Linked DNA regions of Homo sapiens: region 2 is linked to region 1. The links come from fine-mapping of genetic effects on gene expression. A gene starts in region 1. The other region holds a variant in brackets. All regions are shown on one strand. Distances are from middle to middle.

Region 1 (16,025 bases):
ACAAAAACCTAGAAGAGAAAATATAGCTTGGTCAAGGTACTGTAAGAAACCTAGTATGACTTTATCAGACAGTACAAAAGAGGTCAAAAACTGAGGCTTGGTCATTAGAAAAGGCCAGATACAGTATGATTTTGGAGACTATATTAAGAAAGTTGAACTTTATGCTAAGGATAATAGAAAGCATGTTACCTAGCCATTAAACAGTTTTAAGTAGGGGATGACATGGTCAGCCTTGTGTTTCAGGAATACCACTTTGGTTTTAGACAGGAAAATATACTTGGTGAGCTGGGAGGATGCAAGTATAAAAGCATTGAGACTAGTTAAGAACCTTGCATGTTGTAATAATCCACATGAGACAAGATGATGGCTTGGGTTGGGCTTCCAGATGGCAGTGTAGACCCATCCCAGCAAAACAAGCATAATTGGTTGTATGAGTTTGCTGGGGCTGCCATAACAAAGTACCAAAAACTGGGTGGCTTAAACAACAGAAATTTGCTTTCTCATAGTTCTGAAGGCTAGAAGTTTGAAATCAAGATTTTGACAGGGTTGGTTTCTTCTGTGGTGTTTCTTTTTGGCTTGTAGATGGCAATCTTCTCCTTGTGTCTTCACATGGTCTTCCCTCTGTACTGTACAAGTCTGTTTTCTAATTTCCTCTTCTTACAAGGATACCAGTCATTCTGGATTAGGGCTCACCCTAATGACCTCATTTTAACTTACTTGACTCTTTACAGACCCTATCTCAAAATACAGTTACACTATGAGTTACTAGAGGTTAGGACTTCAACACATGAATTTGGAGGGGGCACACAACTTCATCCCATAATACTGTTGAAAACTATAAAAACAAAAACAACCATCTAAAGTCTGTGGAAATTGTCCTAAGGGCATACAGCAAATGAAGAAGCATTCTTTTTTTTCAAGAAAATCCACTAAAACTGAGTAAGAACAGTAACAGTCTATGGCGTCTGAGCCATACACTCGATTCCTACCCATCTTCCTCACCCCCTGAGCTCATCTTGGTCAAAACTCTACTCTGGGTGAGTGTGACCAAGAACATAGGGCTCCCTGTCTCCTCAACTCTCAATCAAGAGAGGCAATATCTCACCAGGAGGAAAAGGCCACCAGCATTTTTCATCCATTCCAACTCTGAGTTGCAAAGGCTAAATTCCTGGTAAGTGTGGCCCCATACAGGGGACAAAAGTTCTATGCCAGGTGCAGCAGAGTGAGAACACTGGGAACTCCAATCACCCTTAACCCAGCTTGCTCATATGGCAGAGGTTCCACTTCAGAAGCAAGTCAAGAAGATCAGAGCCTCCTGTTCTACCCAGTGCCCAGAATAATAACTAAGCAATTTTGCCCATGAGTAGACGCAGCCCATAAAAACAGAGAGCCCTGAAGCTCTCCCCAGAGGACTTACCTTTATTTGAAACAGAGTGTGGGTGATGGTCAAGCCTCGGGTTGCTCTAAAAAAAACAATAGTTTCCTGTAATAAAAAGCAACAAGCTAAACCATAAGCTAGCTAGTTTACCAGAGAGAACCAGGGAAGGAGACAACTAAGAAGAGCCCTCTTGAGGTTAGAGGAAACCTCCAAGACTGGCCTCAAAAACTACCAATGCCTGAATTTTATTGGATTAGACTGTGGAGCAATTTATGCCCCAGGGGGTATCTTCTTAAACAGAGAAATCATCCTACACTTAGTGTAGCACAACAGCTAGAGGTAACACCAAACGAGACAGAAAGTTTAACAGAGAGATCAAGGAAAGAGACAGTCAAAGAGAGCCTTGCTAGAACCACTGATATCCCCTGGTGACGGTGCACATGTCCAAGGCTGCACTCTCTGAGAAATGGGAGCAGAGGCCTTCCGCTACTGGAGAAATAGACTTCACCAAAATAGCCTAGCCAAGTCACTAAACAAACCACAATCAAATAAAAACAAAAGACAAGTCCAAACCATATAGAGGGAATCAGTACTCAGAATTGCTATAATGTATTACCTAAAATGTCCAGTTTTCAATGAAAAAATTGTCATGCAGCGAAATAGCAAAGTATGACCCATAGATCAGAGAAAAAAGTAGGCAACAGAAACTACCTGTGACAGAGCCAAAATGTCAGATTTAACAAAGATATCAAAGCATTCATTATAAACATATTCAACAAACTTAAATAAATCGTGCTTAAAGAACTTAAAGGAAGGTATGATGACAATGTTGCATCGAAAAGAGAATATCAATAAATAGAAATTATTTTTAAGAAGCACCAAATGGAATGTCTAGAGTTAAAAAGTACAATAACTGTAATAAAAAAAATCACTACAGGCGCTCACCAGTAATTTGGAGGCAGAAGAAAGAATCTGTAAACTTGAGATAGATTCACAGAGATTATGCAATCAGAAGAACGGAAGAAAAAAGAATAAAGAAAAATGAGCAATAAATGTGGGACACCATTTAGTTTACCAACATATGCTTAACGAGATTACCAGAAGGAAAGGAGGGAGAAAGGAGCAAAAAATACATGGATTTGAAGAAATAATGACTGAAACCTTCATATTTTCCAGAAAACATTAATCTAAATGTACAAGAAGTTCAACAAATGCCAATAGGACAAATGCAAAGAGCTCCACACCCAGATACATCATAGTAAAAATGCTAACAAAGACAAAAAAAAAACTTGAATGCAGCCACAGAAAAACAACTTGTCACGTACAAGTGAACCTTGATAAGATTATTAGATACCTCTCATCAGAAATAATGGAGATCAGAAGACAGTGGATGACATATTCAAAGCACTGGAAGAAAAAACTATACACCAAATATCTTATATAGAACAAAACCATCTTTCAAAAATGAAGGTTAAATGAAGACATTCCCAGATAAACATAAACTGAGAAAAGTGGTTGCAAACAGATCTTCCTTATAAGAAATACTAAAGGAAGCTTCTCAAGTTAAAAGCAAGTGTGCCTAGATGGTAATTTAAAGCCACAAGAAAAACAAAGAGAATGGGCAAAGGTGATTATGTAATTATAAAAGGCAGTATAAATGTATATTTATTTTCCTTTTGTCTCTTAGCTGATTTAAAAAACAATTGTATAAAACAATTTTTTACAATTGCATTGTTAGGCCTATAACATACAGAAATGTAATATAATTAACAACAACAGCATAAAGATGGTGGGTGGGAGCAAAGTTGTATTGGAGGAAGGAAATTATACCAGATGATAATTTAAATCCACAGGAACAAATGAAGATAACCAAAAATGATAATATGAATATTAATATAATAAACACTAAATATATACTTGTTCTTGTTTCTTTCCTCAGCTTCTTTATTAAACATAAAAGTACATAAATTAATAATTATAACAATATATTACTGAATTTATAACATAGATACAATATATAACAATAACACAAAAAGTAGAAAGAGTAAACAGTTACATAGGAGTAATGTTTCTGTATCCCACTAGAATTAAGTTAGTATAAATCTGAAGTAGATTCTGATAAATTAATATATATAGTAAACTTTAAAGAAAATGCTAAAAAAAACTTTCAAAATATACACTATAAGAAATTCTTATAGGATTATATGTTATACTAGAAAGTGTTTATTGTAAAAGACGTAGTAAAGGAGGAATAGAGGAATGAAGTAGTCATAAAACATATAGAAAACATAAAGTAAAATGACAGAAATCCAACCATATTAACAATAACATGCCAGTTGTGGTAGCTAATGCCTGTAATCCCAGCACTTTAGGAGGCTGAGGCAGGCAGATCACTTGAGGTCAGGAGTTCAAGACCAGCCTGGCCAACATGGTGAAACCCCATCTCTCTAAAAATACAAAAATTAGCTCTGCATAGTGGCGCATGCCTGTAGTCCCTGCTACTTGGGAGGCTGAGACAGGAGAATTGCTTGAACCCGTGAGGCAGAGGTTGCAGTGAGCTGAGATTGCACCACTGCACTCTAGCCTGGGTGACAGAGCAAGACTCTTTCTCAAAAAAGCCAAACAAACAAACAAACAAACAAAACAATAACATTACCAGTAAGTGGAGTGTCCAGGCACTCCATCCCGGACAACAGAATGAGACCCTGTCCCCCACCAAAAAAGAAAAAAAAAAAAGCAAATGGATTAAATATGTAATCAATCAAAGGGCAATCATTGTTAGACTAGGTAGAAAGAAATAAAAACAAAAACAAAAACCCTCAAGGTCTAGTTATATGCTGTCTACAGGAGACACACTTTTCAGATTAAAAAATACAAATGGTTGAAAGTAAAAGGATGGAAAAGATATATCATACAAATAGCAGCAATAAGAAAGCTGAAGTGGTTATGCTAATATCAGGCAAAATGAATATAAAACCAATAAAAAATTCTAGGTGTAAAGAAGGAAATTTTATGATGAGAAGGGTCAATCCTCAGGAATATATAACAATTATAAAGATATATGTCAGAGCCCCAAAATACATGAAACACAAACTTTCAGAACGAAGAGCAAAATAGACAATTCAACAATATTTGGAGAACTTCAATACTCCACTTTCAACAATGGACAGAACAAGTAGGCAGAATATCAACAAGAAACTAGAAGACTTGAACAACACTATACACCAATCAGACCTAACAGACATCTAACTATAGAACACCCAGTGATGGAAGAATGCAAATTCTTCTCAAGTGATGGAATATTCTCTGGGATAGGCCATATACCAGGCCATAAAACAAATCTCAATAAATTTTAAAAAGATTGAAATCATACAAGGTATGTTCTCTGACCACAATAGAATGAAATTAGAAATTAATAACAAAAATAAATTTGGGAATTCACAAACGTGAAAATGAAAAACACACTCCTAAATAGCCAATTGACAAAAAAGGGTATCAAAAGAGAAAATTAGTATATGCTTTGAGATGAATGAAATGATGACACAACAAAACAAAAGTTATGGGATACAGCTAAAGCAGGGTTGGGAAATTTAGAGCTTAAACACATACGTTAAAAAAATAAAGATCTCAAATCAATAATCATAACTTTCATCTTAAAACAATCAGGGTAAAAGGGGGCATAAACCCAAAGCATAAAGAAGAAGGAAATAATCAAGAAGAGAATAGAAAAATGGTAGAGAAAACCAACAAAACTAAAAGTTGGTGCTTTGGAAAGGTCAACAAAATTGAGAAACCTTTAGCTATACTGACTTTGTTTTGTGTTGCTATAACAGAAGGCTGGGTAATTTATAAACAAAATAGGTCATGATTATTAGCTCGTGGTGCAAATGGCTGGGAAGCTCAAGGGCATGGCCCTGGCTTCTGGTGAGGTCTTCTGTGCTGGGTCATAACATGGCACAGAAGGTCAAAAGGGAAGCGGACAAGTGCAAAGAGAGAAAACCTAAGGGGTATCCTGGCTTTATAACAACCCATTCTCAAGGGAACTAATTCATTCCCAAGAGAACTAATCCAGTCTCATCAGAGTGAGAACTCACTCACTATGAGAACAACACCAGGGCCAGCATTGAGGCTATCACCTTTACTTGGGAGGCTGAACTGGAGGAGCACTTGAGACCAGGAGTTTGAGGTTGTAGTGAGTCATGATTGCACCATCTCTCCCCAGCCTGAGTGACAGAGAGATACCCTATATATTTTTTTTAAAAAAGAACAGCACCAAGCCATTCACAAGATCCACCCCCTTTATTCAAATCCCTCCCAATAGGCCCCACCTCCCAATACCATCACATGGGGAATCAAATTTCAACATGAGTTTTGATGGAGACAAACTCAAACCATATCCAAACCATAACACTGACCAATAAATAAAAGAAAGAAGACTCAAATTACTAAAACCAGCAATAAAGAGAGGACATTAATATCAATGTTACAGATATAAAAAGGATTATAATACTATGAACAACGTTAGGCCAACAAATTAGACAACTTACATGAAATGGACGTATTCCTAGAAAGATGCAAACTACCACAACCAACTCAAGAAGAAATAGAAAATCATAGTAGACTTATAACAAGAGATTGAATTAGTAATTTAAAAGCTACCTACAAAGGAAAGCCCAGGCCTAGGTGACTTCACTGCTAGACTCTATCAGACAGTTAAAGAAGAGTTAATACAAATTCTTCACAAACACTTCCAAAAAATAGAAAAGGAGGGAACACTTCCCAGCTTATTTTACGAGGCCAGTTATATCCTGATAGCAAAACCAAAGACATTACAAGAAAACTACAGACCAATATCTCTAAGGAATATAGACATAAAAATATGCAACAAAATACTAGCAAACTGAATGTGGCAATATATAAAAAGAATTATACACCATGGCTAAGTGGGATTTATACCAAGAATGCAAGGTTGATTTCATGTCCCAAAATCAATCAATGTAATACACTGTATCTTTGGGAGGCTGAGGCAGGCAGATCATGAGGTCAAGAGAAAGAGACCATCCTGGCCAACATGGTGAAACCCCGTCTCTACTAAAAATATAAAAATTACCTGGGCGTGGTGGCACGTGCCTGTAATCCCAGCTACTCGGGAGTTGAGGCAAGAGAATTGCTTGAATCCAGGAGGCGGAGGTTGCAGTGCGCTGAGATCACACCACTGCACTCTAGCCTAATGACAGAGCAAGACTCCGTCTCAAAAAAAAAAAAAAAAAAAAAACAAAAAAAACACCATATCAATAGAGTAAAGGACAAAAACCACATGGTCATTTCAATAAATGCAGAAAAAGGATTTGTCAAAATTCAACACTTCTTCAAGATAAAAACAGACGACCTTCTAGGAATAGAAGGAAACTTCCTCACCTGTATAAAAGGCAACTATTTAGAATTCACATTAACATCATACTTAGTGGTAAAAGACAACGCTTTTCTCCTAAGAACAGGAACAAGATAAGTATGTTTGGCCACTCTTGCCATTTCTATTCAACATTGTAATGGAGGTCTAGTGTCTTAGCTTGGGCTGCCATAATAAAATATCATAGACTGGGTGGCTTAAACAATAGAAATTTATTTTCTCACAAATTTAGGAAGTTCTCATTGTACTCAAGGCAAGAAAACTCTGGACTAGGGTGTTGGCTGTTGAGATGGAAATTGGTGGTCAGATTCAGGATACGTTTTGAAGGTAACGTTTACAAGATTTGCTCATAGGTTACAAGAGGAGAAGGTGAAGAGAGAGAACAATAAAGAATTAACATGTACATGTTTGGCTAGAGAAACCTGGTGAACCTCGGGGCTCTTTAGTGGATGGAAGACCAGGAGAGGAAGAATCAAGAATTATCTTTTTTGGCCGTTTGATGTTTGAGCTTCTGAACCCCCAAAATCTGAGACAGGTCTCAGTCAATTTAGGAAGTTTATTTTGCCAAAATTAAGAATGCGCGCCCATGACATAGCCTGAGGAGGTGCTGAGGACATGTGCCTAAGGTGGGTGGAGCACAGCTTGATTTTATATTATATATTTTAGGGAGACATGAGACATCAATCAACATATGTAAGATGAACATTGTATTGGCCTGGAAAGGTGGGACAACTCAAAGCAAAGGCGGGACAAACTCGAAGCCAGGAAGGGGCTTCCAGGTCATAGGTGGGTAAGAGACAAATGGTGGCATTCTTCTAAGTTTCTGATTAGCCTTCCAAAGGAGGCAATCAGATATGCATTTATCTCAGTGAGAAGAAGGATGAGAGGCAGGTTTGCCCTAAGCAGTTCCCAGCTTGACTTTTCCCTTTAGCTTAATGATTTTGGGGCCCCAAGATTTCTTTTCCTTTCACCAGCTATTACATACCCAAGAGATGTTTAGCAAGGAGTTGAATACATATGCCTGTAGTTCCCAGAAGGATCAGAGTCTGAATGATATACAGTTGAATACATATGCCTGTAGTTCCCAGAAAGATCAGAGTCTGAATGATATACAGTTGAATACATATGCCTGTAGTTCCCAGAAAGATGAGAGCCTGATGATATGAAGAGAAAGGTGGCGGGAGATGGGGGGCGGGGGGCAGTAAAGCATCCTGGAGATGCCGATGTCCGGAAGTAAAGGAGGACCAGCCAAGAAGTTTGAGAAGAATCAGCTACTGTAGGACAGAAAAAAAAGCGAGCTGCCCAGACAGCAAGATAGTAAAGTGTTTCAAGGGTGTGGTAGAATGGGGCTAGGAGTCATGCTAGATGCATTGAGAAGAAACAATTGGGATTTATCTTGCTGGTCGCTGGTGTCCTTGAGAGGGCTATTCAGTGGAGGGGTGGGGAAGGGGACTAATTGGGGTTAATTAAGTTGAAAAGGTGAGGTAAGATAGTGGCAACTATTTCCTTGAGACTTAGTCTCTCTCTATAGCCCAGATTGGAGTGCAGTGGAATGATCTCGGTTCACTGCAACCTCCGCCTCCCGGGTTCAAGCGATTCTCCTGCCTCAGCCTCCTGAGTAGCTGGGACTACAGGCGCCTGCCACCACGCCTGGCTAATTTTTGTATTTTTAGTAGAGACGGGGTTTCACTATGTTGGTCAGGCTGGTCACAAACTCCTGACCTCAAGTGATCCGCCTGCCTTGGCCTCCCTGTTTTGCTAGGATTACAGGCGTGAGCCACCGCACCTGCAACTATTTTCATTTGACTGATGGGGCAGTGCACATTTTGGTTTGCATTTGTATTTACGAATGTTTGAGAGAAAAAACTCAAATATCTTACAAGCCTATGTGTCTGGTTCCATTTTGAAGTACTGACCTAGGATCTCTGTACCTACTGAATTTTTTTTGAGAGATAACATACACCTGAAAGTGCATAAAGTGCACTGTCTTAAAATGTACAGCTTGATCCTTCTTTAAAAAAAATCATATACGTACGCCCATGTAACTACTGTTCATATCTAGATGTTGAACACCTCCAACACATCCAACATAACCATAATGTTCCTCTGCACCTTCCCTGTCTATAATCTCTCAGAAGTAAACCAATATTCCGACTCCTATAAAATCCATTAGCTTTACTACATGTTTCAAAGAAAACAAATGAGAACTCTGAAGGACATTTAATTGGAAAACTGCTTTAGCACATTATAAACTTACCAATTTGCTTGTAAACGCTAACCATTTGGCGCCAAAATCCTGGGAGGGTCTTTTAAACCGTTCTTCCTCAAAGCACCGCCCCACTTTTTACACCACGCCTCCTTTTGCTCTGTTCCTTCCCCCACAATATTGGGACACCCTAGGCGGTAGAAGCAGCCGCTTTTCTGTCATGCGCATTGCGGAGAGTCGTTCTTCCCTCTTTCCCGACTTCACCACTCACTGGGATCAGACCCCTGTCATGCGCATTGAGAGTCCTCTAGACAGGCGCTCCTCGCAGCACCGTAGTGCGCTTGCGCTGAGCAGCCCGCGAGGGCGGAAGTGGGAGCTGCGACCGCGCTCCCTGTGAGGTGGGCAAGCGGCGAAATGGCGCCCTCCGGGAGTCTTGCAGTTCCCCTGGCAGTCCTGGTGCTGTTGCTTTGGGGTGCTCCCTGGACGCACGGGCGGCGGAGCAACGTTCGCGTCATCACGGACGAGAACTGGAGAGAACTGCTGGAAGGAGACTGGATGATAGAATTGTGAGTGCGGGGCGGCCAGGGTCCTACGTCCGTGCCTGGACACACGACTTCACCCCGCACGTTCCTCGTGCGGGTCGCAGGCTCCCCAGGACTGCGCCTCCGAGTTGCGGAGCGAGCGTCCCCGACTTCTGCAGCTCCCCAAACTCTTGGGATCTGCCGCCAGCTTGGTCCCACCCCCTCGTCTCTTACCCGTGAATGTTAAGTTTCTTCTGGGGTGCACCCTCGTTTCGTTTCTTGGGTTGTGGTGCGCCCAAAGGGTTAGTGCCAATGCGAATTCTGACATTTTTCATGACTTTGAGGATGCGACTGGGGCGCGGGGAGGGAGGTGTCCGACTCGTGTCTAAGTAGTTAAAGTGATTCTTCACAGACTTCTACACTTATTTTCACCACATTTTACATAAGAGAATATTGAGCAAAATTTCTCCTCTCGTTTTGTCTGTCCTTAAAAGATAGTCTCTTTATGGTGTTGGAATTTGGCGCTTTTAAGCTTTTTTTAATGGATTGGGTACGTTTCTTTTTTATTGTAAATACTGAGTCAATTCAAGTTGGGTTATTTTTAAGTTTTCGTTTTCTCTTTTTGCCTCCTCTTTTGCTTTCTCTTTTTTTCACTCCTCATCTCATTTTTCCTTTGGGTGTCTTTGTAGTGTAGAGAATACCTTGGGTTGTGACTCCTAGGTCTTTGTAAATGGTATTACATTAAAAGATAATGTATTAATGTATACACTCTCAAGAGCGCCAGGTCATCATTTATTGCTCGAACGAAATCATGTATTTTGTGTGGTGATTTCAATTTAATAATATCTGTTCTGCCGCGGTGGGAAATAAAGTATCTGTCTTTGCTTTAGATGCTAAGTCGTTGTTGATGGTGGTATTATACATATTAGCAGTATTTACTGATAATAGTAAAAGCATAATTATTAACAGTGTACTGGACACCACTAAGCACCTTTACACGAATACCATATTTAATTCCCTACAAATTCTCTATGACAGGTGTTTTTCACGTTTTACAAATGAGTAACAAGATACCTAAATACTTTAGTTAACCTATGCAGATATTGCTGTGCTGGCTTTCTTTGGGTCTTCAGAGTAGGCATACAATAATTGTTGTTAGAACACCTTCTTCTTTAAAAAGGTTCAGCTGGAAGTGGCGTACGCTACCCAGGAGATTGAGGTATGAGGATGACTTGAGCCCAGGGGTTCAAGAGATCCTGGGCAACTAGCAAAATAAATAAGTAAATAAATAAAAATGAAAAGACAACAGGGTTCAGGTGAGTGTTTTCTTGTGTCACGAATACAGCAAGGGTTGTCAAGTTAAGGAGGCCAGTGAAAGTGACATCCCCAAGGGAGAACCCAGAAGGCTAAATCAGTAAGTCCTGTGTTATTTTTTAAAAAAACAAAACTGGCCGGCGCGGTGGCTCACGCCTGTAATCCCAGCACTTTGGGAGGCCGAGGCCGGTGGATCACGAGGTGAGGAGATCGAGACCATCCTGGCTAACACGGTGAAACGCCGTTTGTACTAAAAATACAAAAAATTACCTGGGCGTGGTGGCACGCGCCTGTAGTCCCAGCTACTCGGGAGGCTGAGGCAGAAGAATCGCTTGAATCTGGGAGTCAGAGGTTGCAGTGAGCCGAGGTCGCACCACTGCACTCCAGCCTGGGCGACAGAGTGAGACTCAATCTCAAAAAAAAAGTAGAACATTTATATGGAGGGTAAGATAAAGGGAAATTTTCATAGTATGCATGTAGTCTGCAATTCTGAAATGAATTTTCATTCAGGCACCATTGAAAGCTTCAGGGGAGAGGAACTGTGACACTTTTTCAGTCATCATCATGAGTAACTTGTTTTAGATCGTGCCTGTAAAATAGTGTTATAAGCAATATATTAAGCAATAGTGATCGTGTGTGTATATGCAAAATACAGTCAAGTATTACTCAAGGATATTTTTTAACTCATTATGGTCCAACTATATAAATACAGCAATCAGAAGTAGTATTAAGGAGAACAAGACTAACAAAACATTGAGTATGAGGTAAATCCACATTGGAGCATCTATCTGAAATTATGCTATAGAGTAGTAGTTTTTCTTTTTCCTTAAGTAGAGATTCTAAAGTAAGTTTTTAGAAAGCAACTGACAGCCTGGGCAACATGGCAAAAACCAGTCTCTACAAAAAAATACGAAAAATTAGCTGGGCGTGTGGGCAGGCATCTGTAGTCCCAGCTACTTGGGCTGAGGTGGGAGGATGTCTTGAGCCCGGGAGGTTGAGGTTGCAGTGAGCCCAGATGGCGCCACTGCCCTCCAGCCTGGGTAACAAAGCGAGACCCTGTTTCAAAAAATAAAAAAGCAACTGAGCAACAAAACGAACCTGAAAAAGAAGGACTCTAGTAGTTTTAGTAATAGTCTGCTCCTAATTACAAGTGAATTATCTACAGTAAATCCATTTCTGCTCAGAAGTTTTGTCATGGAGATATTTTCATTGTAATACGATTTATTGTTAGGAGCTTGGCTTTTATACTACCAGTTTGTCTTGTTCTACAATGTCTATTTTAGGAGTTTGGTTTTCATAAAACAAGTGAAGAAAATGTGAAGTACAGAAAGTATAGTTTTGTGTTTAACTGCTTTAGGCTTTATTCTTCCTGGTTCTGTTAAAAAAAAAAAAAAAAAAAGAACAACCCTGTGGTGTATTATAAGATAAAATACAATAAAGTGGAAAAATAAGATCCTCAGGAGATAATACCAGAGGAGTAATTTAAATGCTAATATGCTTGCATTTGTAAATCCAAGGTCTTGGAAACAGGATGACCTAACTGGCCAAGAGTTTTGTTTGGCCTGCTTAGTATTTGTGTGTGGGTTATTTTTTGAGGTAACATTCTCATATAAAAATGCAGCTCTCCATCTTCTTTTAAATATGAATAGCCAGCCTTAGTGTGCCAGCATCCTTAGTGGCAATCCTACTTAATAATGGTTGCCACTTTAAGATGGAATATGTGCTTTCTTATTCACCACAGCCCAGGACACTTCTGTTTTTCCAACACCTTGCATTTGTGACTCTGCATTATAAATTATTAAAATTGGTAAGCTCTAACTTTGGTCTTGAGCTTTCTGGTGGCCACACCGTTAATAGAGAAATGCAAAAGTTTTCTAAAGAGCTGTTTTGCATGTGAAAAAATCCTGTGTCTTATTCTCAGAATTTTATTTGATTAGCATCATCAGTTCATCATTCTTGATTTCCGGATTGTTAGATCTACCCTTAAAAGTTTTTCATCTGCATAAAATTAACCACCTTATCATCTTCAGTGTTTTCATATGAAATATTCTTCATAAATTATACATTTAAATTTTTTATCCCAAGATAAATGGTCATACTAAAGTGCTTAACTTTTTTTAAAAAAAAATCTGTATTTCTTAGTTATGCCCCGTGGTGCCCTGCTTGTCAAAATCTTCAACCGGAATGGGAAAGTTTTGCTGAATGGGGAGAAGATCTTGAGGTTAATATTGCGAAAGTAGATGTCACAGAGCAGCCAGGTACTGTAAGTCTTTGGTTAGTTTTGTTTCTTTGCTGTTTGGGTTGATATATTTATCCTTTTTTCTACATTGCATAGTCTTAATTCTACCTTTCTTTAGGTTTTGAAAACCTAACAGTCTGCAGCTAGTTAACCTGACTTGTCCACCTCCCTGCTGGGGGCTCAGTGTGCAATGGTTGCAAAATGGAGATTCCCTGGTTGTGTATACACCTCATTTCTTGAATGTGTTGCTTTAAGGGTTCTTGAAGACATTACCCTCTTTTTATTCTTGCCCACATAACTGCCTCTGATTTGTTGTTCTTTGCATCCCAGGCCCCAGACTAGTATGTAAGATGCCTTTGAGAAGTCCTAGGACACTGTGGTTCAGGTGAACATTGGCCAAGCCACATTTGCATCCATACCAGGCTTCAGAATAAGGAGCATGTGGTTGAGTGTTTTTCTGGAGTCAAGGTCACGTTCCCTGACAAAAGAAGACCTGAATCTCTGAAATTGAGTTTTAAATTTAGTACCTATGATTTGAGGATGTGGGCTTCTAAATATAAAGCCCTCGTGGTTGTGAGGTCAAGTGCACTCCTGACTTGGTCCCTGGACAAGTGGCAGGTCCTGCCCTTAAGGAGGTTCCTTCCACAGACCAATCTCATCTTACCGTTCTCGGTAGTCACACTACCCTTGGATTCTTGGCTGTCCCATCCCAAATGGTAATAATAGGTAATATTTATCGAGCGCTTGCCTATTATAGCACTCTTCCAAATATCTTGTGTTTATTATTTAATCCTTATACAACCCCGTGAAATATGTAATGTCCCCATTTCACAGATAAGAAAACTGAGGCACAGGTCAATTCTCTGTAATATCAGTGCTTGACACATGGCTAACAATAAATGTTAGCTGCTATTATTTTTGCCTGTCTCATGAAAGATTCATAGTATTTTCCATTTTTAGCAGCACCATAAACTGCCTTTGTTTGTTGAATGTCAAGTACAATTCCATTGGATTTTAGATCTAAGACCCTATTACCTTGTGCTCTCCCATGAGCACAAGGTGCTCTTATTACTAGTAGTCTTAATTTTGACAGTGATATAAATGTTGAAGTGTTTTTATTTAAAAATGTATTCAGTACTCTAGTTCTACATACTTTTTAACTGAGATAATGTGCAGTATTGTGTTTTTTAAAGTTGCTTTAAGTACATAATTCATTTTTAAATTATGTATTACGAAGCTCAACTATTAGGTATAATTTCATATTCTTTCCTATTAGTATGTATTTAAATAATTCAAAGTCACGTTTTAAGTAGTCAGTGATTGGCCTATGTAAAACCTGCTGTGTGTTCTTTATTTGTAGGACTGAGTGGACGGTTTATCATAACTGCTCTTCCTACTATTTATCAGTAAGTATTTGAAGATTCTAAATTATGGAGAAGGATGCATTATAGTGTAATCAGAAGTAGTAGGCCTCTGGCTTGGATCATGCTGGAAGAGCTGAGGTAATCTCATTATATTCAGCAGGTATTTTAGAGGGCTTGTTTTGCTTAGTGTTATCCTAGGTGCCTTTAGGTAGTTGAGTGATGTGTGAAACAGTCTCTGTTCTCAAAGATTTACAGTTGTTTTGGAAAGTGATGTTCTTGTGAAATGGTGTGATCCTGTTCAGCGTGTTAAGTCATTATGCATCCAAAGTAGTGGTGAGTCCTGTAGGTAATTGGATAAAGGAGAAATCACAGTTACCTGGATTGGTTCCCAGAGAATATGGGGTTTAAATGAAACCTTGGAAGTAGAATTTTAAGAGTGGAGCGTAAGCATTTTATTGTGAGGACAATCTCATAAACAGTCATTAACAGGAACATGTTATGTCCAAAAAGTAGCTAAGAAAGTGCTGTTGTACAGCCTTGGGTAGAGTAATAGGTGACAGTTGGGTAATAAAACAGAATGAGCAAGATTATGTAGTCTTCAGTGTCAGGTCTATTAGTTTGACTTTATCTTCTAAATTGAGGGTATGAAATCTCAAGTCTGTGTACCCCAACATCATGTAGCTGGTAGGTTAAATACCAGGAGGTACTGAAAATAAGTTGACAATTCTTTGTATTTATAGCTTGCTTTTCTTTGCCCTTTTTTCTTTTTTTTATGGTTTTAAAATTCACCCCTACTCCCTTTACATCTATATAAATTTCTGTTCGCTGTCTCCATAAGTGCTTCTGTCCTGCCCTTCTCATTCAGTCCTTTTCCCCACGTGCCCCTTCAGTCTCTCCCTTTGCTTTTCACTTCTTAGTGCCCTGTGACCTTATTTGGAATTTCCTGCCCTTTTTCTTTTAGTCAAAATTGTTTACCATATCCTTTCTCCTGTTTCCTGCCTGTCGAAATCTTACCTATGCTTCAAATAATAGCTCAAATGACACTTCACAAAAACTTTGTGTTTTGGGGTGGGGGGCTTCCTCGTGGTTTTTACCTCTGAGTGGATAAAGGGTCCCTTAACCCTACTTAACAGGTCCCTAGTAGGGAGCTGATGAGTTTTTGCACTTAAAGATGTTGGAGCCAAGAGAACATTTGTGACTCTGACAGAACTTTCTACATTGGGAATGGGAAGGAGGAGGTGGATCTAAGGAAGGCTGCAAAGCTCACTAAATAGTCACTGAAATGAGAGGAAGGGAAGCACCATACCAGATGCCTCCAGTGATTTAAAGCAGGGTGTCTGAGGTGATGCTATTATAGCCAAAAGTACTAGAAAAATGCCTTAAAATTTTAAGTTATAGCTTAACAGCTAATAATTACTATGTGCCAAGCACTATTCTAATAATTTTTATATAATTCTTTTAATATGTGTATTACACATAAGGCTTAAAAGTACTTTCCTGAGATTTATCTACTTACTGTATTTCATAGTTTCATTACTTGGAAGAATAACAGTAATTACATTTTAAGGCTTATGATTTAAAAAAATGTAACCT
Region 2 (16,025 bases), 24 kb after region 1:
TTTCCTTGTATTTTTAGGTTATGCAACTAATAAAAACTACCTTACATTAATTAATTACAGTTTTCTACACATGGTAATACAGGATATGCTACTGATTTAGGAAGTTTTTAAGTTCATGGTATTCTCTTGATTCCAACAAAGTTTGATTTTCTCTTGTATTTTTCTTACTTACTATGGGTTACATTTTTTATTTTTCAAATTGGATGATAATTTCTTGGAAACATTTTTTATGTTTTAGTAAACAGTATTTTTTTGTTGTTTCAAACTGAAGTTTACTGAGAGATCCATCAAATTGAACAATCTGTTGTAATTTAAAATTTTGGCCACTTTTTTCAGATTTTACATCATTCTTGCTGAACTTCAACTTGAAATTGTTTTTTTTTTTTTTTCTTTTTGGATGTGAAGGTGAACATTCCTGATTTTTGTCTGATGTGAAAAAGCCTTGGTATTTTACATTTTGAAAATTCAAAGAAGCTTAATATAAAAGTTTGCATTCTACTCAGGAAAAAGCATCTTCTTGTATATGTCTTAAATGTATTTTTGTCCTCATATACAGAAAGTTCTTAATTGATTTTACAGTCTGTAATGCTTGATGTTTTAAAATAATAACATTTTTATATTTTTTAAAAGACAAACTTCATATTATCCTGTGTTCTTTCCTGACTGGTAATATTGTGTGGGATTTCACAGGTAAAAGTCAGTAGGATGGAACATTTTAGTGTATTTTTACTCCTTAAAGAGCTAGAATACATAGTTTTCACCTTAAAAGAAGGGGGAAAATCATAAATACAATGAATCAACTGACCATTACGTAGTAGACAATTTCTGTAATGTCCCCTTCTTTCTAGGCTCTGTTGCTGTGTGAATCCATTAGATTTACAGTATCGTAATATACAAGTTTTCTTTAAAGCCCTCTCCTTTAGAATTTAAAATATTGTACCATTGAAGAGTTTGGATGTGTAACTTGTGATGCCTTAGAAAAATATCCTAAGCACAAAATAAACCTTTCTAACCACTTCATTAAAGCTGAAGACCAGTATGATTTCTGGTTGCTTTTTGAAGGTATGCTTTATTACTTTGTATTTAACGATGTTCAGATGAGTAGTTGTGTGTTCCTATATATGTACTTGATATGTGTAATCAAAAGACTGCCTTCTTTTTCTATTGAGATGTTTAAGGACAGTAATGCTCATTAATCAAGCATTTTTTTTTTTTAGTGTTCTAGTATATGTGACATGGCCAATTTTTTTATTAGAAAATATGTGACCAGAAAGATTCTATAGAGTAAAAAATCAAAGCAAAACAAAAACCACAAAAAGACCCCTGTACTATAGAAAATGTAAAGTTGGCTGAACAGATAGGGTCTTGAAATTTCAGGAAACATATAATCTCACGGTTCTTAAAGATTGTCACTGTAGACATCTGAGTAATTAATTTTCAGTTAGTAACAGGCTTATAGAAACTTTGGGATTATTTACAAATGGTTTAGGAAAGAATAAGGTATAGTAAAAGTAATATCCTGGAGAATTCTGGGCCACCTACCCACCATAATCAATTCAGCTGTACTACTGAAGTATTGTAAAATCTGATCTCTAGAGGAAAATACAGTATTCTACCTTACGTTGTGTAAATACTTAATGATTATCAGAAAGACTGAAAAAAGTTTTAATGAAGAATTCTGGCTACATCTAACAGCTGCCATTTACCAAGTACCTACTGGAGCTTTGTTGTTTTCTTGTATTTATTAATTTAGTCCTAATGACAACTGCAAGACAGGTAAGCATTGCACATCTTTCAGGTGAGTCAGCCCAGAGGTGTGGTACAAATAGGTAAAATTTGAATCTAATTCTTGTTCCAAATCTTTTTTTGTTTGTTTTTGTTTTTGTTTTTTTTCTTCAGTGTGGGTACATGAAATTCAGCAATCTCTTATTTTGGTCTTTTTTTTTTTTTTGAGACAGAGTTTCACTCTTGTTGCCCAGGCTGGAGTGCAATGGCATGATCTTGGCTCACTGCAACCTCCACCTCCTGGGTTCAAGCAGTTCTTCTGCCTCAGCCTCCCAAGTAGCTGGGATTACAGGCATGTGCCACCATGCCCGGCTATTATTTTGGTCTTAAAATTTCACTCCTGTCAGAATGTAGGAGTGAATAAATGCTATTCATAAATAACCATAATTATTCAGTATTTGCAGTCTCGTGATGTTGGTTATTGCATAAAGTAAGTTATTGCAGTAAATGATGCTTTAGAAAGCAATTTTCTCTCATCAGTTTCGTCCTTATTCAGCCTTACACAAAAAAAGGCATAGTTCTGGGCTTAATTGTGATGTAATTAAAATTATTGAGTGAACATTTTGGCTCATATTTTATGACATTGTAGTTCATCCCCATGGTCAATTTAAGGTAGAGTTCTTACAATATATTACTTTCAATATAGGTATTTTATTAATAAGAATTTATTTCAGTTGGACTTATTAAATGAGTGGTTTTGCTGAGTGTATGAGTCTATAAATAAAATTTTAATTGAACATCATTGGAGATTTAGATATGTTGGTACTGCTTATCTAGCAACTTTTGTATTTGTGAAACCATTAAAACTAGAGTAACAATAAATTTAAGTTGGAATTTTGGTAATATGTAAATAGCAAAGTCAGATTATATATTTGAACAGGTGTAACATATCCCCTTTTTTCTTATTTATTTATTTATATTTTTGAGATGGAGTCTCACTCTGTTGCCCCGGCTGGAGTGCAGTGGCATGATCTCGGCTCACTGCAACCTCCGCCTCCAGGGTTCACGCCATTCTCCTGCCTCAGCCTCCCGAGTAGCTGGGACTACAGGCGCAGGTGCCCACCACCATGCTCGGCTAATTTTTTGTATTTTTACTGGAGTTGGGGTTTCACCATGTTAGCCAGGATGGTCTCGATCTCCTGACCTCATGATCCGCCCACCTCGGCCTCCCAAAGTGCTGGGATTACAGGCGTGAGGCACTGTGCCTGGCCTTTGTCATTTATTTTTAACTGACAGGAAATAATTGTGTATATTTATAGGATACAATGTGATGTTTTTATCTGTGTACATGTAGAAAGATTTGACCAAGCTAATATATCCATCACTTCACCAGTTTATCATTTTTTTTGTGGAGAAAATGTTAAAAATATAAGTTAGCTATTTTGAAATATGCATTAACTGTGGTCACCATGCCATGCAATAGATCACTAAAATGTATTCCTGTTGTCTAACTGGAACTCAGTACTGTTTGATCAACATCTTCTCTTTCTCCATTCCTCCCTTACTTCCCAGCCTCTTGTAACCACCTTTGTATTGTTTCTATGAGATTAACTTTTTTAGGTTCTACATATAAGTGAGATCATACAGTATTTCTTTCTCTTCCTGGCTTATTTCACTTAGCATAATGTCCTTCAATTCTGTCTATGTTACTGCAAGTGACAGAATTTCCTTCCTTTTTTAAGGCTGTATAGTATTCCAGCATGTATACTACATTTTCTTTACCCATTCATTCATTGACAGAAACTTAGGTTACTTCCCTATCTTGGCTACTGTGAATAATGCTGAAATGAACATGGGAGTGCAAATATCTCTTCAACATACTGATTTCAGTTCCTTGGATACATATCCAGAATTGGGATTGCCGGGATACAGGGTAATTCTGTTTTTTTTAGTTTTTTGAGGAAACTTCATACTATTTTCCAAAATGGCTGTACTAATTTACATTCCCACCAAGAGTGTACAAGGGTTCCCTTTTCTCAAAATTCTCACTAATACTTATTTGTCTTTTTGATCATAACCATTGTTAACAGGTGATCTCTGATTGGGTTTTAATATGTGTTTCCTTGATAATTAGAGATGTTGAGCATTTCTTATATCTGTTAGCTATTTGTGTGTTTTGAGAAATATCTGTTTATCTTTTGCCCATTTAAAAAAGTTATTTTTCTTAATAACTGGAATTGATTTATTAATAAATCATTAGAAATTATTAGACATTAATAAGAAATTATTTCTAAATAAATAGAATTTAGTTCCTTATATGTTTTAGATATTGGCTCTTTATCAGTTATATGGTTTGCAAATATTTTCTCCCAATATATGGATTATGCCTTTTCCTGTGCAGGAGCTTTTCAGTTTGATGCAACCCCATTTGTCTGGTTTTGCTTTTGTTGCCTGTGCTTCTGGAGTTCTGTTCAAAAAATCATTGCCCAGATGAATGTTGTAGAGCTTCCAGTAACTTTATAGTTACAGGTCTTAGGTTTAAGTCTTTCATCCATTTTGAGTTGATTATGGTGTGAGATAAGAATTCCATTTCATTCCTCTGCATGTTGGTAAAAGCACTTATTCCAAACACCATTTGTTGAAGAAACTCTTTTTCCCATTGTGTGTTCTTGGCATCCTCTTTGGAAATCAATTGACTATAAATACTTGGGTTTATTTCTGTGCTATCTATCCTATTCCGTTGGTTGATGTGACTGTTTTTATGCCATTACCATACTGTTTTGCCTTTTTGCTTTACATTTTCATGGAATATCTTTTTTCATACCTTCACTTTCAGTCTATATATGTCCTTAGAAGTGAAGTCAGTCTCTTTTAGGCAGTATGTAGTTGGGTCTTTTTTTCTTTTTTCTTTTTTTTTTAAAACCATTCATCTGCTCTGCTTTTTGATTGGAGTGTTTAATCCATTTATATTTAAAGTAACTATTGATAGGTAAGAACTTAATACTGTCATTTTGTTAATTGTTTTCTGGTCAATATTGTGGATCAGTTGTTCCTCTCTTCCTCTATTGCTGTCTTCCTTTGTGGTTCCTTGACTTTTTATAGTGGTATGCTTTAATATTTACTTTTTATTTTTTGTATATCTACTAAGGATCTTTGCTTTGTGGTTACCACAAGGCTTGCGTAAAACATACTAATAACGGGCTATTTTAAGCTGATAACACCTTAATTTTGATCACTTGCACAAATTACACTTTTACTCCCTACTAGTGTTTTTCTTGACATGTTTTATATATTTTATAGTTTGTGTTCCTTAAGAAATTATTCTAGCTATGGTTTTTTTAATAGTTTTGTCTTTTAGCCTTTGTACTAGATATATAATTGTTTTTTATACCACCATCAGAGTATGAGTGTTCTGAATTTGACTGTATACTTTTACCAGTGAGTTTTCTATCTTGATATATTTTCATGTTGCTACTTAGCGGTATTTTTTGAAGAGTCCTTTTGGGATTTCTTGTAAGGCAGGTCTAGCGGTGATAAATCATTAGCTTTTGTTTTTCAGGTAAAGTTTTTGGAAGACAGGATTGCTGGGTATAGATAGTATCTTGGTTGGTAAGGTTTTTTCCTTTCAGCTTTTTGAATATATCATCCTATTTCCTTCTGGTTGGCAGGGTTTCTTTTGAAAAACCCAGTGATAGTCTTATGGGGCAGCCCCTTTGAATGTAGCGAGTCACTTTTTCCTTGCAGCTTTCAATATCTTCTCTTTGTCTTTAACTTCTGAACAGTTTGATTATAATATGTTTTGGTGTTGGTCTCTGGATTCATCCTTTTACATCATTGAACTTCCTGGACCTGGCTTTCTATTTCCTTCTTCAGACTTCGGAAATTTTTTACCATTATTTGTTTGAATGTTTTGTCCCTTTCTCTCTTTTCCTGGCACAATGATAATGCATAAATTCTGCTTGATGATGTCCTGTATGTCCCTTAGGCTGTCTTCACTCCTTCTTATCCTTTTTTTTTCCTCTCTTCAGGCTGAATGATTTCCAATGACCTGTCTTCAAATTTGCTAATCCTGCTGCTTGATCTAATCTGTTGTTGAACCATTCTGAGTTTTTTAGTTTAGTTATTGTATTTTTCAGCTTGATGATTTCTGTTTGGTACTTGTTAATATTTTCTATCTTTTTATTGAATTTCTCTCTTTAAGAATGGCTCTCCTTACCTTGGTGAGCATCTTTATGACTGTCCTTTTGAATTTTTGTCAGGCAAATGACATATCTCCATTTCCTTAGGGTTGGCTTCTGGAGATTTATCTTTTTTTTTTTTTTACTTGGAATACATTTCCCTTTTTCTTCATTGTCCGTAATTTTTGTGTTAGTTTTTGCTCATTAGATAAAAGAATCCCCCTCCAAGTCTTGGTAGACTGGCCTCATGTAGATGTTCTCCCTCAGTCAGCCCCACCAGAGATTCTAAGTGCCTCTAAACTCTTTGTGCTTGTCCAAAGAATCTTTGTTCTTAGTGGACCCCAAGAAATTAGAGAGCATCAAGTCATACTATTGCCTTGTAAGAGGCAGGATAGAAGGCAGTCCTTTGGAATGCAACTGCAGAGGTTGGAGTGTGAGATATGATTCAGTTCTTCCCTTGCAGAGAAGCTGAGAGCCAGAGTTTATCTCTGACTCTTTCTATCTTACATCAAGGACGGGTCAGAAGCAGATCCTTAAAGTCTTGTTCAGGTTGTGCACTTTGAACCTGGGGAGATAGCTGCTGAACGTACAAGTTTAAAAGTCATCTGTTTGTTCTCTATGGTCCAGAAGACTCAGGAATACAGAGCTCTGTCAGTTTCCAGAACTAGGTGATGTAGGTGCCAGTAAAGGCTTAGTGAAGGCTTTACAAGTTGGGGTGCTAGATGCATGTGGAAACTTTCCACAGAGTTTGCAGGTTGGATCTGTTGTTGGAACAAGCCAGAGAAGATGATGTTGGGAGTGCTCACTCTCCTGTTAGAGCAAACAGAAGTTTCACAACCTCCTAGCAGGGGGAGACTTTCCTGGAGTTGTCACTGAAGTAAGCCAGGGAGGAAGGCAGGGAGTGTCTGCTTTCCCTTTTATACATAGAGAGGTACCCCTTGCTGGTCAAGAAGGTGCAGGGGATGCTATCGCTCCCATTCTTGCTGGCAGAAGTCTCCAACCTCTTTCCCTGGAGAGCTATAGCAAGTTAAGGAAGGTGACATAGGGAGTGCCATGCTTCCCGTTTAGACTTGAAGAGATTTATTTATTTATTTATATATTTTTTGAGACAGGGCCTCACTGTTGCCCAGGCTGGAGTGTAGTGGCATGATCATGGTTCACTTCAGCTTCAACGTCCTTGGGCTCAGGTGATCCTCCACCTCAGCCTCCCGAGTAGCTGGGGCTACAGGTGCATGCCACCATGCCCAGCTAAATTTTGGGGGTTTTTTTTTAGAGATGAGGTCTGAACTATGTTGCCTAGGCTGGTCTTGAACTCCTGGGCTCAAGCAGTCATCCTGCCTTGGCCTCCCAAAGTGCTGAGATTATAAGTGTGAGCCACCACACCTAGCCTTATATATATATATATGTTTTGGAGACAGGGTCCTGCTCTGTCACCCAGGCTTTAATGCAGTCGCAGCTTCATAACTTACTGCAGCCTCAAACTCCTGGGCTCAAGTGATCCTTCTGCCTCAGCCTTCCAAGTAGCTAGGATTACAGGCACACACCACCACACCCAGCTAATTTTAAAATTTTAAGTAGAAACAGCATCTTGCTATGTTGCCCAGGCTGGTCTTGAACTCCTGGTTTCATCCTCCTGCCTCAGCCTCCCAAAGTGAGGTTTATTCTTTATTTTGCTATGTAGGTTACCAGGTACAGGTTTGTTAGAAGCCAGAATCTCAGGGAGCTGCTGGAAAAGTGTGTGTTCAAACCCTTTCAGGAACAAGTTGGGAGCTGAGCTGATCCTGGGGACTGCAGCAACTGGGAGTGTTTGTTTGGTTCAAAAGCCCCCTTTGTTGTTTGTGCTTGAAGGAAATCTGATGCCATGCCCTCCTGTTTCCCAAGCAAAGTAATTTTAAGTGTCAGACTTTAAGGCAGGGACTGTAAATGTTGAGCACATGTGGTATAAGTCCCTCACCCATCAGGAAGAAGCTAGGATTTGGAGTTTCCTTTCTGTTTTTAAGGTGCCATGCTCACGGTAGGGTTAGTGTGCTGGTGTATCTCCACTTTTCCTACCTGTTTTGATGTGGATATTTTCTCAGTCATATGGTGTGTAGGTGTCTTTCAGCTGGATTCTGGCTTTCTCTTGAGAGCTGATCCATGTGTAGGTGTTTACCCAGTGTGTCTGTGGGATGAAGGACAGTCAGGAGCCTTCTATTCTGCCCTGTTGCTGACATCATTCCCCTCTCTCTCTTTTAAAGTAATTGTTTATTTTGATTCATTAATTACAAATGGTGATAATATCAGTATTTTGCCTGGTAATGAAATCCGCTTGTATCTTCTACCCACTTGGGTGTGACATTACTTTTAAGCTTGTTTTCCTAGTGGTGTTATAACTCAGACTGGTTGTGTCCAAAACATGAGAAATGAAAACACCAGAAGTAAATTGACCAAATAGAGGTTTGACTTATCTGAAACTTCTTTTAAATGTAAATATAATTAAGAGTCATCGTTTTAAGTTCAGTGGAAACATACTTAATTTTTAAGAGTAACTTAAGCAATGTATTTTTTTCAAGCCTTCCTATTTTCAGTGTTTTTAATAAAGCAGGTCAGAAATAAGGTTACCTAGTGGATTTGAGTATATCAGTTCAAGTCCTTAGGATGATTGGCATATTGCTACCTGGGCTTTTATTTATTTATTTATTTTTTTGAGACAGTCTTACTCTGTAGTCCAGGCTGGAGTGCAGTGACGCAATCTCACCTCACTGCAACCTCTGCCTCTTGGGTTCAAGCGATTCTCCTGCCTCAGCCTCCTGTGTAGCTGGGACCACAGGCGTGGACCACCACACCTGGCTAATTTTTTTTTTTTTTTTTTTTTGAGGTAGCAGGGCATTCTTAAGAAATGTTCTCTAAACTTTAGATATCTCCCATGTTCCACAGAATCAAATATATATTTCTTGGTTGGAAATTTTAAATGTTCTTAACTATCTGCCTACCATCCACCTCAATTAATATTCTTGAGACCACTTTAACAAATCAGCTCTTCAGTGAATGTTCCTCACATTGTCTGTTGGTTCATAAGTCAGCTGAAATCCGTTTAAAGTCCTTTCCGGCCCACAAGTGTAGGTTTTATCATCCTCTGGCAGTTAAGTCACATTTGTCTTGTAATGTTTCTTCTCTTGCATTTATTATACCAATTAGCTAAGTGACATTGAGCAAAGACCATACATCTCTTGTCCTCAATTTATGTGTAAAATGATTACTGAAGTTTCTTCTCTACCTTTAAGAAGACAATTATTAGATTCATACTTGTCTCCAAAACCTGACTGTCAGCTCCTTGAGGCCTGAAACTTGTTAGTTTGAAACAAACTGTAGTGATGTAGTGGGAGACTTCCGAGCATTAATGTTCACATTTGTAAAACGAAACAGGTCACTAGGAAATAATCACACCCTGAGTCTGCTGAGAATGGGGAGCCAGAAATGAAAAAGGCTGCCCTGCCCTTTACTCTCATAGACAATACTGTTGTGTTGTGTCACTGTACTAGCATCATCCCATCCTTCACTGCAAAAGCCAGATTTTAAGTCCTCCATCTGTGTCTCCCCTGCGTTCATATGCTTCAGGGGCAGTTGACTCCATCTTTGCCTGCTAGATTGAGTTTAGATTATGAACACACATGCTAATCCAATCC[A/T]GCAATTGACATGGTCAATGGATGTGTGCTCCAAATAGAGCCATTGAGATATTGCGGTATTCTGGCAAGGCCTCTTAAAAATGAGACTCAGCAAAGAGATAGTTCTCTCTCTTCTGGAGTTTGGCATTATCTGAATGTGATGCACAGAATTTTGAGGTCATCTCACAGCCTGAGGATGAAGCCAATAAACAGGATGGCAGAGCCAAGAGGATCTCAGAAAAGCAAAGGGAAAGTCCTGGTGTAATACCCCTTACCTCTGGACATCTTACTTGAGATAATTTTTCTTACTACCTAACCATTTTGAGTAAGACTTTTCAGTTGAAATTATGAGCATGGCTGTTACCTCTCGACTTTGTGAACAATGGTGTCTTGATTTAACTTAACCCAGTTCATTCCATATGTATTTCATTATCTGAGAATGCTCATTTCAAGCCTATGGTTTACTTCTCTCACTGTGACATTCCAAGGTTAGGGGGAACAAAGAGTACATGTATGTGGTAAAAAGTAATTCTTGGGCCAAATCAGACACAACAAACACTGGGTAATGAAAGGTGAAATGAGTATAGTTTTCCTTTCAGGGATCTATTTTTTATTATAGCTCATAATTCATTACACTAATGTTATGCTCTGTAAGCATTAGAGATGAAATCCTGGAAGCTAAAAATAGTATATATTGGGTTCAAATATAGCTGTTTAGTGTGAAAGCAGGCTTTGAACCTAAAAGAGCCTTGCTTGACTTGTTTAATAGAACTTTTATATTTGGATTTTATGTTTAGTGAGCAAATTCTTACAAATCGTTTTGGACAGTTACTTTAGTTGTCTTCTGAGAATGGGAACAATATAAGTTTGAAGGTGGTAGGAATTATTTTGCTATTTTGTTTCCTTTGAGGAGGAGGAAGGAAAGGATGAGAAATGTTTATGTTATCACGAATGTTTCTTAGTCTAATGTTTATAAAGGTGGATTGCAGTTGAATAAGACTACTGCTTAATAGTCTGTAACTTGCACTGTAACTGGAACCATTTTTTAAACTATTATTTTGTAAACCTGTCAAGAATGTGATTCCTTTTTTTTTTTTTATGTATTTGCAAGCTCCTTGTCAGTGCATGCTTTGACACCTTACTGCTGGAGAAGCCAAACTGCTTGATAACTTTTAGTAATATATTGCATATAAACATTTTTAGTTACATTCAATGTTAACACATAAATTCAGATTCTTAAATGGTCCCAGTTTTCAGGCTGATTTTTAGCTGAGTACGTGCAAACTGCATAAAATGATCTGTTACTTATTCTCATCTTGGATATGAGCTTCCAAAGAAATCATAGTCCACAAAAATAGGGCATTGTGGTATATTTTTATTAATCCTTCGGGCAGTCCTTTATTCTAAGATGATATCTTTCTACTTCTTAGTGTTTCTAAAATGAAAAATGATGGTAATTTTTAAAAATGACCTTAGTAAAGTTAGAAGTTGACAGTTTCTTGTGTCTAACATTTGGAGGAGAATGTTACTGGTTTATAACATTTTGAAGTCTGGGAACAATACGTCTAGGGGGAGATGAATAAACTGAAGTTTCCTCATTAGCTCATTTAAAGGCAGATAGATAGAAAGCAAGTATTAGAATCTCCTCCCAATCAGTAGATTTCTTCATCCTTCACAAAGTTTTGTTTGAGTGGAGTTACTGGAAGCCATGCTATGTGATACAACTGTAAAGTTAAATGCTCTAGTCACATTGTTAAATAGAACTCATTTTTGATCAAAAAGGGCTATTGACTTAAGAGATCTATCAGGTGACAGTTTGTATTATTGTGACACCCATGCCTGTAGTAATTTCATTACTCTTTGTGTCTGTGTTAAGAAAAGATAGACTCACAAGGTGAATGATTATCTTGGCATTTTAGTTACATCAGTGACACTTCCTCCTGTACATATGGGGAGATCAGATTTAATCTGATGCTTGGCACTCACTAAGGAAGAAAAAGGTCAGTTGGGTTACTGAGGGTTTTTGTTTTGTTTTGTTTTAGAAGCATCATTATAAAATTTATCATAGCAAGGAGAAGTATCCAAATTCAAATGGAATCATATTAGTGTCTTGGCACTGTCATCTTAATAAGTTCTTGCTGAATATATTTTTTCATTCGGCTGTTTACCACTGATCTTGAGTTAAGCCACCAAAGAAGGCCCCAATTGTGCTAGTTATCCAACTTTGCAAAAAAAAACAGCTTTTTTTTGAGACGGAGTCTCACTCTGTCACTCAGGCTGGAGTGCAGTGGTGCAATCTTGGCTCACTGCAAGCTCCGCCTCCCGGGTTCACGCCATTCTCCTGCCTTAGGCTCCCGAGTAGCTGGGACTACAGGCGCCGGCCACGACGCCCAGCTAATTTTTAGTATTTTTAGTAGAGACGGGGTTTCACCGTGTTAGCCAGGATGGTCTCGATCTCCTGACCTCGTGATCCACCCGCCTCGGCCTCCTAAAGCGCTGGGATTACAGGTATGAGCCACTGCGCCCGGCCACAAAAAACAACTTTTAATAAAATATTTTCCATTTTATTTCACCAATAATACTGTCTCATGATCCCCATGGATTTCCCTTATCTCTAATGTGAGATATTGTAAAAACCTTTTGTTCACCACACACACCTGTAATCCCAGCACTTTGGGAGGGTGAGGCAGGCGGATCGCTTGAGGTCAGGAGTTTGAGACTAGCGTGGCCCACGTGGTGAAACCTCTTCTGTACCAAAAATACAAAAATGAGCCGGGCATGGTGGTGTGCACCTGTGGTCCCAGCTACTCAGGAGGTTGAGGCAGGAGAATCGCTTGAAGCCAGGAGGTGGAGGTTACAGTGAGCCAAGACCAGACAACTGTACTCTGGCCTGGGCAGCAGAGTGAGACTCCGTCTCTAAAACAAAACAAAAAAAAACATTTTATTCATGTGTACGTTGCTTTAGAGTTTACAAAGGGCTTTCATGTTCTTTATCTCATGTGACTCTAACAACAACCTTTATTAGTAGACAGAGCGCATATTTTTTATTATTATGAATATTATTATTATTTTACAGATAAGGAAACTGAGAGGCTAAAAGACTTGGGTGAGGTTACACCATAAGTAAGTGTTGGAATGAAGACTTGAACCTAGGATCATTGACTTTAGTAGAGTTCAATGTTTCTCAAAATATTTTCTGTAGAAAACTAATCCCACAAGATATTTATGAGGACAATGCTCGTGGTCAAATGAGTTTGATATGTATGTCAATACAGTATGTTCCAGCTGGATGTTTACAGTACCTATTACCAATAAGACCAGTTTACCTTTGTTCAACCTGGTATTAATCAAGTTTGTTTGAATATAGAATCCCTTTTGAAAGCAACAACTTTAAATATCCTAAGAGATCAGTATTTCTTAAAGTACACTTTGGGAGAATGTTAGTGTAGTAACTTCTCCTATGCTATGCTACCCTAATCTTGCATGGGACTTTTCTGTATGGCACCTTGTACTTTAAACTTCCTACTCTATTGTAAAATCCTGTCTTCCTGAAGTACACCAAAATAATCCTATTGATCACTACATTGACAGCATATTGGTAATGTCTTAGAGGGAGAGCAAAGGCAGGATATTTTGGGTTCCTTGGGGCTCTGGCTTATGGTGGGTCTTTTCATTTGGGGGCTTATGCTTAGACAAATTTGTGGATAGGATCTGAAAGTGAATCTTGGCCAGGCACGGTAGCTCACGCCTGTAATCCCAGTGCTTTGGAAGGCCAAGTAATCCCGGCGCTTTTCGAGACCAGCCTGGCCAACATGGTGAAATCCGTCTCTACTAAAATTACAAAAATTAGCTAGATGTGGTGGCACATGCCTGTAGTCCTAACTACTTGGGAGGCTAAGGCTGGAGAATCGCTTGAACCCAAGAGGCAGAAGTTGGAGTGAGCCGAGATTGCACCACTGCACTCCAGCCTGGGCAACAAGAGTGAAACTCCATCTGAAAGGTAAAATAAAATAAAAATAAAGTGAATCTTGAGAAGTAGACATTCATTGCTGTATTCTGAGAAAGGAGTATATACTTTGATGAGGGTAAGTTCAGTAGTTTAGTGTTCAGATAAATGATTATGATATGTTCAGTAGTTGAGTGTTCAGATAAATGATTATGACTATGTCTTGAAATGAACAAATAAAATTATTTGCAGATTTACCTTCCTGGGTAAATTTCCTAGAATATTAATGCTATGTGAATGAAGACAGTTGTTGATATTGACGGTAAACTGTGTGGGTGCAGATGGTTTCAGCTTTTAGTGTATCCCCTTGTAACATAATATGAAATATATATTTGGTCTTTGCCCCCCAGTTCCTGACACAGAGTTCCTAAAACTCTTGCAATTTCCTTAGTGGTGGGGTGATAGGAGTATCTTTTTAAATCTTATTCCTTGTTCTTGACACAAGAGCTTCTCAGAAACTTGCGATCTCCGGAGTGAATGGTGAGTGTCTTTTAATATTTTCATGAAAAGAGTGGTGCTAAAAGCCCCTAAATATTATAGCTTCAGAATAGGGACTGGTTACCAGGGGAATCAACCTTGTGATTAGAAGACTGAAACTTCGAAGCTTTCTCCCGACCAGTGATTGAATTAATCATACCTATGTAATGGAACCTCCTTAAAAACCCTTAATAAAGGGGCTCGAGGAGTTTCTGGGTTGGTGAACACATGAAGGTGCAGGGAGGGTGGTATGCTTAGAGAGCACATGGAAACTTATATCCCTTCCCACATACCTTGCTGCCCAATACCTCTCTTCTCTGGCCATTCCTGAGTTGTATCCTTTATAATAAGCCAGAAATAATAAGCATTTCCTGAGTTCAGTGAACCATTCTAGTAAGTTATTGAACCTTAGGAGGGGTTCTTAGGAACTGCTGATTTATAGATGTCAGAAATATGGGAGGCTTGGATTTTTGATTGGCATTTGAAGTGGGGAAAGGGAGGCAGTCTTGTGGGAATGAGCCCTTAACCTGTGGGGTCTGCACTGTCTCTGTACAGTCAGTGTCAGAATTAAATTGTAGGACACCCTGTTGGTATCCACAGAGAACTGGAGAATTGCTTGGTGTGGAAAGCTTCTATACATTTGATGTCAGAAGTGTGAATATAGAGGAAACAGTTTTTCCTTTTCACCCCCTTATTGCCATTCTTTGGCCTGAGCTGATGGATTCACTACTGGGGATGTGATCAGTCTAGATCTTCTCTGCTATATATAGTCTCTTAGTCATGTATCATTTCCCAGATGGTTGTTTCAACATTCAAGTGTTAGGTTTTTCTGTTCTTTTTGTTGGATGATCATTTGTTTAATCATGTGGTAAGACAACAGTTGGACAGCAGCATTTAAAACTTGAGGACACACCATCTGAGCCCCTGTAAATAAAATATACCAAGAGAAGGATTATGATCAGTTTGTTGTCTTCCTCTAAGCCGTGACTCAAGAGTGTCCAAATTAAGCTAGAAGAACAGATTTTATCTCCTATATAATGAGGAGATGCAGTACCAGGTATGGGATTATTAGTCAAATCATAAAGTTAATTAATTTTATGATTTTTTGGTTAGCTTACCAGATCTTTTTAGTATTGTTAAAGATGCCAGAGACATCTGCAGGGCTATAAGCATACCATTTCCCCCTAAAACAGCACGTTTTCTCTCAAGACACCAATATTATAATTAATGGGCTCTTTTTGAGTTCCATTTTCTGAACCTCTTGGGCAAAGAGTTCTGTAGTTGTGGTAGCATTGTTTATTATAGCTTTCCTGCTTTTCTCTGAACCATAGCATGCCGGAGACTCTCTACCTCTAGGCCTCTTATAAAGTGAAGAGGATTGAAGACAGCAGAAAGCAATCCAGAATTTGAGTGATTAGGGTTTCGATTCTCAAACCAAGACCCACTTTTTCTCCTTTCATGAAGCTATCTCTTTTTCTAAGAGGGTAAATTGATGAATCAAAACAGATCTTGGATGATAACAGGGACTATCCTGAGGTTAGTTAGGAGTTTACCAAAGTAACAAGCCTCTGTCCGATTTGCAGGTAGTAGCCAGTAGGTTTTTGTGTTACAAATCCACTCACTGGTGGCCACTCAGTCGTCTGTTTTTGGTCAAAATACTCCTGTGGTTATTGTCAAATCCTTTTGCTATGCTCTAGGGCCACTTATGAAGAGTGGTCTGGCTCCAGGCAGTGAAATTTATGGTGTCAAGACTATTAATTTGGTTGTTCTAAAGTGAAAGAGAAGTAGTGTGTTTTACTTGTCAGATCGGGTAAAGTGAGATAGTCTCCAAATATGCATAATCTGTTCCCTAGTTCTCTTTCAAGCTTTCTATCTGTGAAAGTTTGTGTACAAAAGCTAGCTCCCACAAAAGGTCCCAAAGGTCTCAAGCATAGTTTTGGTGGAGACAGGAACATTTTGTTGTTTTGTTTTGGTTTTTGATAGGCTATTTATCCT

The links. PIP is the estimated chance that this variant, and not a neighbour inherited with it, causes the effect.
Region 2: its variant is the best candidate, but not a certain one, in a credible set for the expression of TMX1 in lung (TOPMed, PIP 0.53).

The regions. Positions count from the first base shown.
Region 1 is chr14:51,230,885-51,246,909 of GRCh38, forward strand. TMX1 (thioredoxin related transmembrane protein 1) reads left to right here and starts at 9,363. Exons shown (of 8, transcript NM_030755.5): 1 at 9,363-9,560; 2 at 12,972-13,087; 3 at 14,429-14,474. The coding sequence starts at 9,409. It overlaps LOC124900346 (small nucleolar RNA SNORA70), which reads left to right and starts at 13,206; the gene lies at 13,206-13,340. RefSeq lists a silencer at 9,199-9,541 and an enhancer at 9,402-9,641.
Region 2 is chr14:51,255,020-51,271,044 of GRCh38, forward strand. It overlaps TMX1 (thioredoxin related transmembrane protein 1), which reads left to right. Exons shown (of 8, transcript NM_030755.5): 8 at 1-2,636. Among named protein-coding and RNA genes, the nearest start is that of TMX1, 23 kb to the left of the region's middle. The variant A/T (reference allele first, on the strand shown) is at 9,569.